Homo sapiens: one gene and its partner. The protein of the gene in region 1 purifies or fractionates together with the protein of each later gene. This does not show direct contact. Each region holds a gene or a part of one and is shown in the gene's direction. Other genes may lie near its edges.

Region 1 (3,646 bases):
AGTTTGAGACCAGTCTGGGCAACATAATGAGACCCCATCTCTACAAAAAATAAAAATATTAGCTGGGTGTTGTGGCACCAGCTTGTAGTCCCAGCTACTCTGGAGGCTGAGGTGGGAGGATCTCTTGAGTCTGGGAGGTCAAGACTGCAGTGAGCCATGATCACACCACTGCACTTTAGGCTAAGCAACAGAACAAGACTCTGTCTCAGAAGTAGGGGCTGAGAAATAACCACTATTTGGATTTAGAAATTGAGTTCTTTGGGCCATGCGCGGTGGCTCACACCTGTAATCTCTTTGGGAGACTGAGGCGGGTGGATCACGAGGTCAGGAGATTGAGACCATCCTGGCTAACACGGTGAAACCCCGTCTCTACTAAAAATACAAAAAATTAGCTGGGCGTGGTGGCACGCACCTGTAGTTGCAGCTACTTGGGAGGCTGATGCAGGAGAATTGCTTGAACCCGGGAGGCAGAGGTTGCAGTGAGCCGAGATCGCGCCACTGCACTCCAGCCTGGGTGACAGAGAGGGACTCCATCTCAAAAAAAAAAAAAAAAAAAAAAAAGAGGTTGAGTTCTTTATAGTAAAATACTATACGTGGAAATCAGATTTTAGTGAGTTGAAGGACTGTGGCTGAGAAAATGGAGACACTTATAGGTTGACTGCTTAAGGAGGAAGAGGCACTGCCATTTATTGAATGTCTACTGGCTTTCAGGTACTCTACTCAGGGTATTTTTTTTTTTTTTTTTTTTTTTTTTTTTTTTGAGACGGAGTCTCGCTGTGTCTCCCAGGTTGGAGTGCAGTGGCGCGATCTCGGCTCACTGCAAGCTCCGCCTCCCAGGTTCATGCCATTCTCCTGCCTCAGCCTCCCAAGTAGCTGGGACTACAGGCGCCCGCCAACACGCCCGGCTAATTTTTTGTATTTTTAGTAGAAACGGGGTTTCACCGTGTTAGCCAAGATGGTCTCGATCTCCTGACCTCGTGATCCGCCCGTCTCGGCCTCCCAAAGTGCTAGGATTACAGGCGTGAGCCACCGCGCCCAGCCTCAGGGTATGTTATATCAGACACGTAGAATGGATTTGATTGCTCTGTCGAACATTTATTTTAGCTAAGAAATTTATGTCTTTCACCCATAGTCATTTTCACTTTGATGTATGTTTAAAGTGCGAATATCTTAATAAGGAAAGGGAACCTCTTTCACTCCTTGAGGCAAAATTCTTGTTCTTCATCTCATATGAGGGGAAAGTTGGTACTGGATTTTGTCTACATTATATCCTCCATCCTCTTCTAAGCCCAAACAGATTTGGGCCGTTATCCCACCTTCCTTCACTCCAGGCCCGGTATGAAAGCCAGCGGATCCAGCTGGAGTCGGAGCTGGCTGTGCAGCTGGAGCAGCGGGTGACAGAGCGGCTGGCGCAGGCTCAGGAGAGCAGCCTACGGCAAGCAGCCTCCCTCAGGGAACATCACAGGTACGTGGGACTCACTGGGTGTCACTTCTCTCAGCCACAGCACGTATCGTTAGTGCCAGGCCTGTGTTCCCTTCAATCCCTTTGCCATGGTCCAGCACTGTGACTCCCAGGGTGCGCTAACTCCCATCAGCTGGGACCTGAGTCTCTCTCGGGAGGGCTGCCTTCACGCGTTCATGGAGAGCCAGAAGTGCCTGGGAATTTTCATCCCATAGGGAGTAGCCCTTAACCAAGAACTGATGGGTGCAGAATGATAGATGGTCCAGCTCCCTCACTGGGACAGTGCTGAGGTATGACCTGTGCTGTCTCCAGAGCTGCTCTGTCGGACTGAGCCTCCTCGCAGCCTGGCCTCACTTCTCCTCACACCCATTCTGCTGCCGAGATTTTCTGGAACTGCTTCCGAAATAAATTTATTTAAGTCTCTGCTTCTGAGGAACCCATCCTAAGACCCCAGCTTTGTCCTTGCCGCTTCCTGTGCCATGGCCAGGCTAGCTGACTGGCTATCTGGGTCACTGTCATGTGCACACATGATGTCTTTTTCTCAGTTGGTCACTTCTTCTGTCTCCAGTCTCAGGCCTCTTCTCCTACCTGTGCCCTGTAGGAAGCAGCTGCAGGACCTGAGTGGACAGCACCAGCAGGAGCTGGCCAGTCAGCTAGCTCAGTTCAAGGTGGAAATGGCAGAACGAGAGGAACGGCAACAGCAGGTGGCTGAGGACTACGAGCTCAGGTCCTGGTCCCCAGAGTGCCCCTTTCAGGCCCCAGCCCCTTTCCCATGGGTAGAGCCCAAACTGGGAACGGTGAAGAGCTGCTCCCTTGATTGATCTGTCCTCCTCTACATGGGCCCCAGCTCCTTTCAGAATATCAGATGTCCAACATTTCCCTTCTGGCTCTTTTTAGCTCCCAAGTATCTGCTTCCTTAAAGGCCCTGAGTCACTTCTTCTCTCTTTGCTTCAGACTGGCCCGGGAGCAAGCGCGAGTGTGCGAACTGCAGAGTGGGAACCAGCAGCTGGAGGAGCAGCGGGTGGAGCTGGTGGAAAGACTGCAGGCCATGCTGCAGGCCCACTGGGATGAGGCCAACCAGCTGCTCAGCACCACTCTCCCGCCGCCCAACCCTCCAGTACGCCTTACCCCTTGAGCTAAGCTTCTCCGTTATGTTCTATTTTTATTTTTATTTTTGAGACAGGGTCTCACTCTTGCCCAGGCTGGAGTGTACTGGTGAGATCATAGCTCATTGCAGCCTCGAACTCCTGGGCTCAAGTGATCCTCCCACCTCTAACTCCCAAAGTGCTGGGATTCCAGGCATAAGCTACCATGCCCAGCAAGAACTGTGTTCTAGATTCCTTCTTTGGAAATCTAGCTCCCTCCCAAGGGAAGTACTAAGTTCAGCTCCTAAGGCCTACATCAGGGGAGAAAAATCGGTGGACTTTACAAATAATAACTGCCTCAGCAAAATAAATCCTTTTTTCCATGGCCATAGCTCACTCAGACTGGCCCCATTCCATTGGGCATAACTCTAGTCTCCCAGTCCCAAGAGGGGACAAATGATACGTGGTACTAGTTTTGTGGAGGGACAGCTGAATTAATTATGAGGGAAAGGGCCAAAAATTGTTGCCAAGTCCTGCCCCAGAGTAGAGTAGGGAGTCTCACTTCCTAGCCCTTCATACGTTGATACTTCCCACTTCCTTCTTTTAATTATGAAATTCTAGCAGGTGTGGTGGTGCGCCTGTAATCTCAGCTATATGGGAGGCTAAAGCAGAAGGATCACTTGAGCTCAGGAGTTCAAGACTAGCCTAGGCAACATAGTGAGACCTCATCTCAAAAAAAGAAAAAGAAGAAAAAATTAGGATATTTTAATTTTAATTTTATTTATTTATATACTTATCATTTATTTATTTGAGACAAGGTCTCACTCTGTTGCCCAGAGCGCTCAAGCAATCTTCCTTCCTCAGCTTCCTGAGTAGCTGGGACTACACACACGTGCCATTGCCCCCAGCTAATTTTTAAATTTTTTGTAGAGATGGCATCTCTCTATGTTGCCAAGCCTGGTTCAAACTGCCAGCCTCAAACGGTCCTCCCAAAGTGTTGGGATTACAGGTGTGAGCCACTGCATCCGGAAATTTATAATCTTATTAAAGTGTTTGTACCATGTCTTATCTCTTTAAACCTACTGTGCTTTGACCCTTC
Region 2 (3,646 bases), on another chromosome or scaffold:
AGGATTATTTGCTGAATGAAAAAGTTTGTATTTGTTTCTTGTACGTATGCAAATTGGGAACCAAATGCTAATTTTGTAATTGATACTTGAAATCTGACAAGTTTCATAATACATTTTGTCTCTCTCTCCTGTCAGGTATCATGATATTAGCTGGTTTGACATCAAGTCATTTGTGAGTCATCAGATCTTCTCCTGAAAATGGGAGACACAGTAGGGCCCCTCCCAGGAGCTCTTGGCTGTTGCTGATGGCAGAAGCCAAGCTTGTCCAAGGTTCACTTGTAGCCCCTCAGCGTCAGCTCAGCTGGTGTCGTCCTGACCATGGACGGCGCGTCGGCCGAGCAAGATGGCCTCCAGGAGGACAGATCCCACAGTGGCCCCTCGTCTCTCCCCGAGGCCCCACTGAAGCCCCCGGGCCCACTGGTGCCACCTGACCAGCAGGACAAAGTCCAGTGTAAGTCGTGAGGTTCCTCTGTGTGCTGGTCACAGGAGGACCTGGTGTTGAGGGAGGACGTGGTGTTGAGGGAGGATGTGGCGTTGAGACCACTGTGAGCTTTTCACTTAATTCAAAGTTGTTTTTTTTTTTTTTTTTTTTTGAGACGGAGTCTCGCTCTTTCGCCCAGGCTGGACTGCAGTGGCGTGATCTCGGCTCGCTGCAAGCTCCGCCTCCCGGGTTCATGCCATTCTCTTGCCCCAGCCTCCTGAGTAGCTGGGATTACAGGCGCCCGCCACCGCGCCCGGCTAATTTTTTGTATTTTTAGTAGAGACGGGGTTTCACCGTGTTAGCCAAGATGGTCTCGATCTCCTGACTTCGTGATCCGCCCGCCTCAGCCTCAGCCTCAAAGTGCTGGGATTACAGGTGTGAGCCACTGTGCCCGGCCCAAAGTATGTTTTAGTAACTGAATGATGCCACCTTTAGATCAGGCACATTCCTGCTAAACAGAACTCCATTAAACGTGTGGGGCAGCAGCAGTGTTTCCCTGAAGGGATCTATGGGTCTTTATCATGTTCCCTGCCTAAAATTCTACCTTTTTTTTTTTTCGACGTGGAGTTTTGCTCTGGGTGCCCGGGCTGGAGTGCAATGGCGAGATCTCGTTTCACTGCAACCTCCACTTCCCGGGTTCAAGCAATTCTTCTGCCTCAGCCTCCCGAGTAGCTGGGATTACAGGCATGCGCTACCACGCCCAGCTATTTTTTGTATTTTTAGTAGAGATGAGGTTTCTCCATGTTGGTCAGGCTGGCCACGAACTCCCAACCTCAGGTGATCCGCCCACCTTGGCATCCCAAAGTGCTGAGATTACAGGCGTGAGCCACTGCGCCCAGCCATTTTTTTTTTTTTTTTTTTTTTTTGAGACGGTGTCCTGTTCTGTCGCCCAGGCTGGAGTGCAGTGGCACCATCTCAGCTCACTGCAACCTCTGCCTCCTGGGTTCAAGCGATTCTCCTGCTTCAGCCTCCCGAGTAGCTGGGACTACAGGCACCTGCCACCACACCCAGCTATTTTTTGTATTTTTAGTAGAGACGGGGTTTCACCATGTTGGCCAGGCTGGTCTCGAACTCCTGATCTCAAATGATCCACCCACCTCAGCCCCAAAAAGTGCTGGGATTACAGGAGTGAGCCACTGTGCCTGGCCGAATTCTGCCTTTTTGATTGGTCAGTTGCTGAATTTGTAATAGCTAGAATTCAGAAGTCGTCCCGTAGAGATCTAAGGATTACGGAGCACAGTGTTATGTTAGCCCCCTGGGTTATTCACGTGTCAGAGGGAAAGGGTGACTTAGTTATTCACTCAGTTCTCATGCCTCTTCCTGGCCAGGAGGTTCAGTGCTTTAAAACTGTAGACTACAGATGTGCTAATTTACTAGCAGAAGTCACAGTCTAATTCCTGTAAAATGATACTCAGGCGCTTAGGATGGCTTTGCTGGTCCTTGCTACATAAGCATCAGGTGAGGCAGATAACAACTTAGAGGCCCAAGATCAAGAGTTCTGAGACCCGCGGCCGTGGAACCTGCTCTTAGATCTGCTGCTCAGGAGCAATGTGCCCTCGAGCAAGACGCTGGGTTAATCTCAGCCTCCGCCCCTTTTTCTATTTTAAACATTTTATTACTGTTTTTAGAGTCAGGGTGTTGCTCCATTGAGCAGGCTGAAGTGCAGTGGTGTAATCATAGCTCACGGCAGCCATGAACTCCTGGGCTTAAGTGATCCTCCTGCCTTGGTCTCTGGGGTAGCGGTGACTATCGATGCGTGTCAGCACGCCTAGCTGATTTTTTTTTTTTTGAGACGGAGTTTTGCTGTTGTTGTCCAGGCTGTAGTGCAATGGTGCGATCTCGGCTCATGGCAACCTCCGCCTCCCGGGTTCAAGCGATCTTCTGCCTCAGCCTCCTGAGTAGCTGGGATTACAGGCATGTGCCACCACGCCCAGCTAATTTTGTATTTTTAGTAGAGATGGAGTTTCCATGTTGATCAGGCTGGTTTTGAACTCCCAATCTCTGGTGATCCCCCCACCTTGGCCTCCCAAAGTGCTGGGATTGCAGGCGTGAGCCACCGCGCCCTGTTGCCTGGCTCATTTTAAAAACTTTTTGTATAAACAGTCTTGCTGTTGCCCGGGCTGGTCTTGAATTCCTGGCCTTGAGTTATCCTTCCACCTCGGCCTCCCAAAGTGCTGGGATTACAGGTGTGAGCCACTGCGCCCGGCCTAACCCAGTAACTTTTATCTGAAATGCAAGGTTCCCCCTCTCCCAGCAGTGGAGCTCACGGGTCCTTTGCATGAAAGGCGTCTCAGTGCGTTGGTCGGGTGCCCGTGGTCTGGCTTCCTGTCTGGCACCCCTGCTTTTATTCTGGTTTTTCTTTCGGGAGGCATGACAGTAAGTATCTGCTGTTAGTTTGAACTCACATTTGCAAGTGAAAGAAACCTTTTCTTTTTTTGAGACGGAGTCTCGCTCTGTTGCCCAGACTGGAGTGCAGTGGCACGACCTCAGCTTACTGCAAGCTCCACTTCGAGGGTTCACGCCATTCTTCTGCCTCAGCCTCCCAAGTAGCTGGGACTATAGGCGCCCGCCACCACGCCCAGCTAAGTCTTTGTATTTTTAGTAGAGACGGGGTTTCGCCGTGTTAGCCAGGATAGTCTCGATCTCCTGACCTCGTGATCCACCTGCCTCAGCTTCCCAAAGTGCTGGGATTACAGGCGTGAGCCACCGCGCCCGGCTAAGAAACTCATTTTTAATTTGCTTGAGCAAAAAGCAAATTTGCTGTCCTGCATGCACGTGGGATCCGAGGAATGCTGACCCCTGTGAGACACGGAGGTGTTGCCGGGCCTCCAGAGCCACCGGAACCAGGACCAGAACCCCCTGAGGACCCTCCCTCCCCCCTCACATGTCTTGGTTCTTTGACTGTGAACTGGCCCACCCACCAGTCAGCAGTTAGGGGGCAGGGAAAAGACTGAAAATCACTTCATTGAAAGAAATCTTTCTTTGTTCCATTTGATGAGGAAATATGTTTTAGTTTGTGTTGTGGGTAATTTGTATATAATCATTTTAGTGGGTGAACTGAGGTAACACGTGGGTATAGAATTGTCACTGGTCCAACCCAGGCCTTTACCCAGCAGGCTGTCATCAAGCAGAAGCGCGGTTCTGGGCTGTCTCTGCTTCACGGGT

The links. Proteins that work in one complex are often made in the same cells at the same time.
Region 2: the proteins of CNTROB (region 1) and GOLGA3 purify together in Homo sapiens (affinity purification with mass spectrometry; one large-scale study listed by BioGRID and IntAct). This does not show direct contact.

What each region holds. Positions count from the first base shown.
Region 1 is NC_000017.11:7,942,060-7,945,705, forward strand, and holds part of CNTROB (centrobin), read left to right. Parts: intron 1-1,331; coding exon 1,332-1,465; intron 1,466-2,063; coding exon 2,064-2,189; intron 2,190-2,416; coding exon 2,417-2,579; intron 2,580-3,646. UniProt on the Homo sapiens protein: Required for centriole duplication. Inhibition of centriole duplication leading to defects in cytokinesis.
Region 2 is NC_000012.12:132,818,801-132,822,446, reverse strand, and holds part of GOLGA3 (golgin subfamily A member 3), read left to right. Parts: intron 1-135; 5' UTR 136-318; coding exon 319-451; intron 452-3,646. UniProt on the Homo sapiens protein: Golgi auto-antigen; probably involved in maintaining Golgi structure.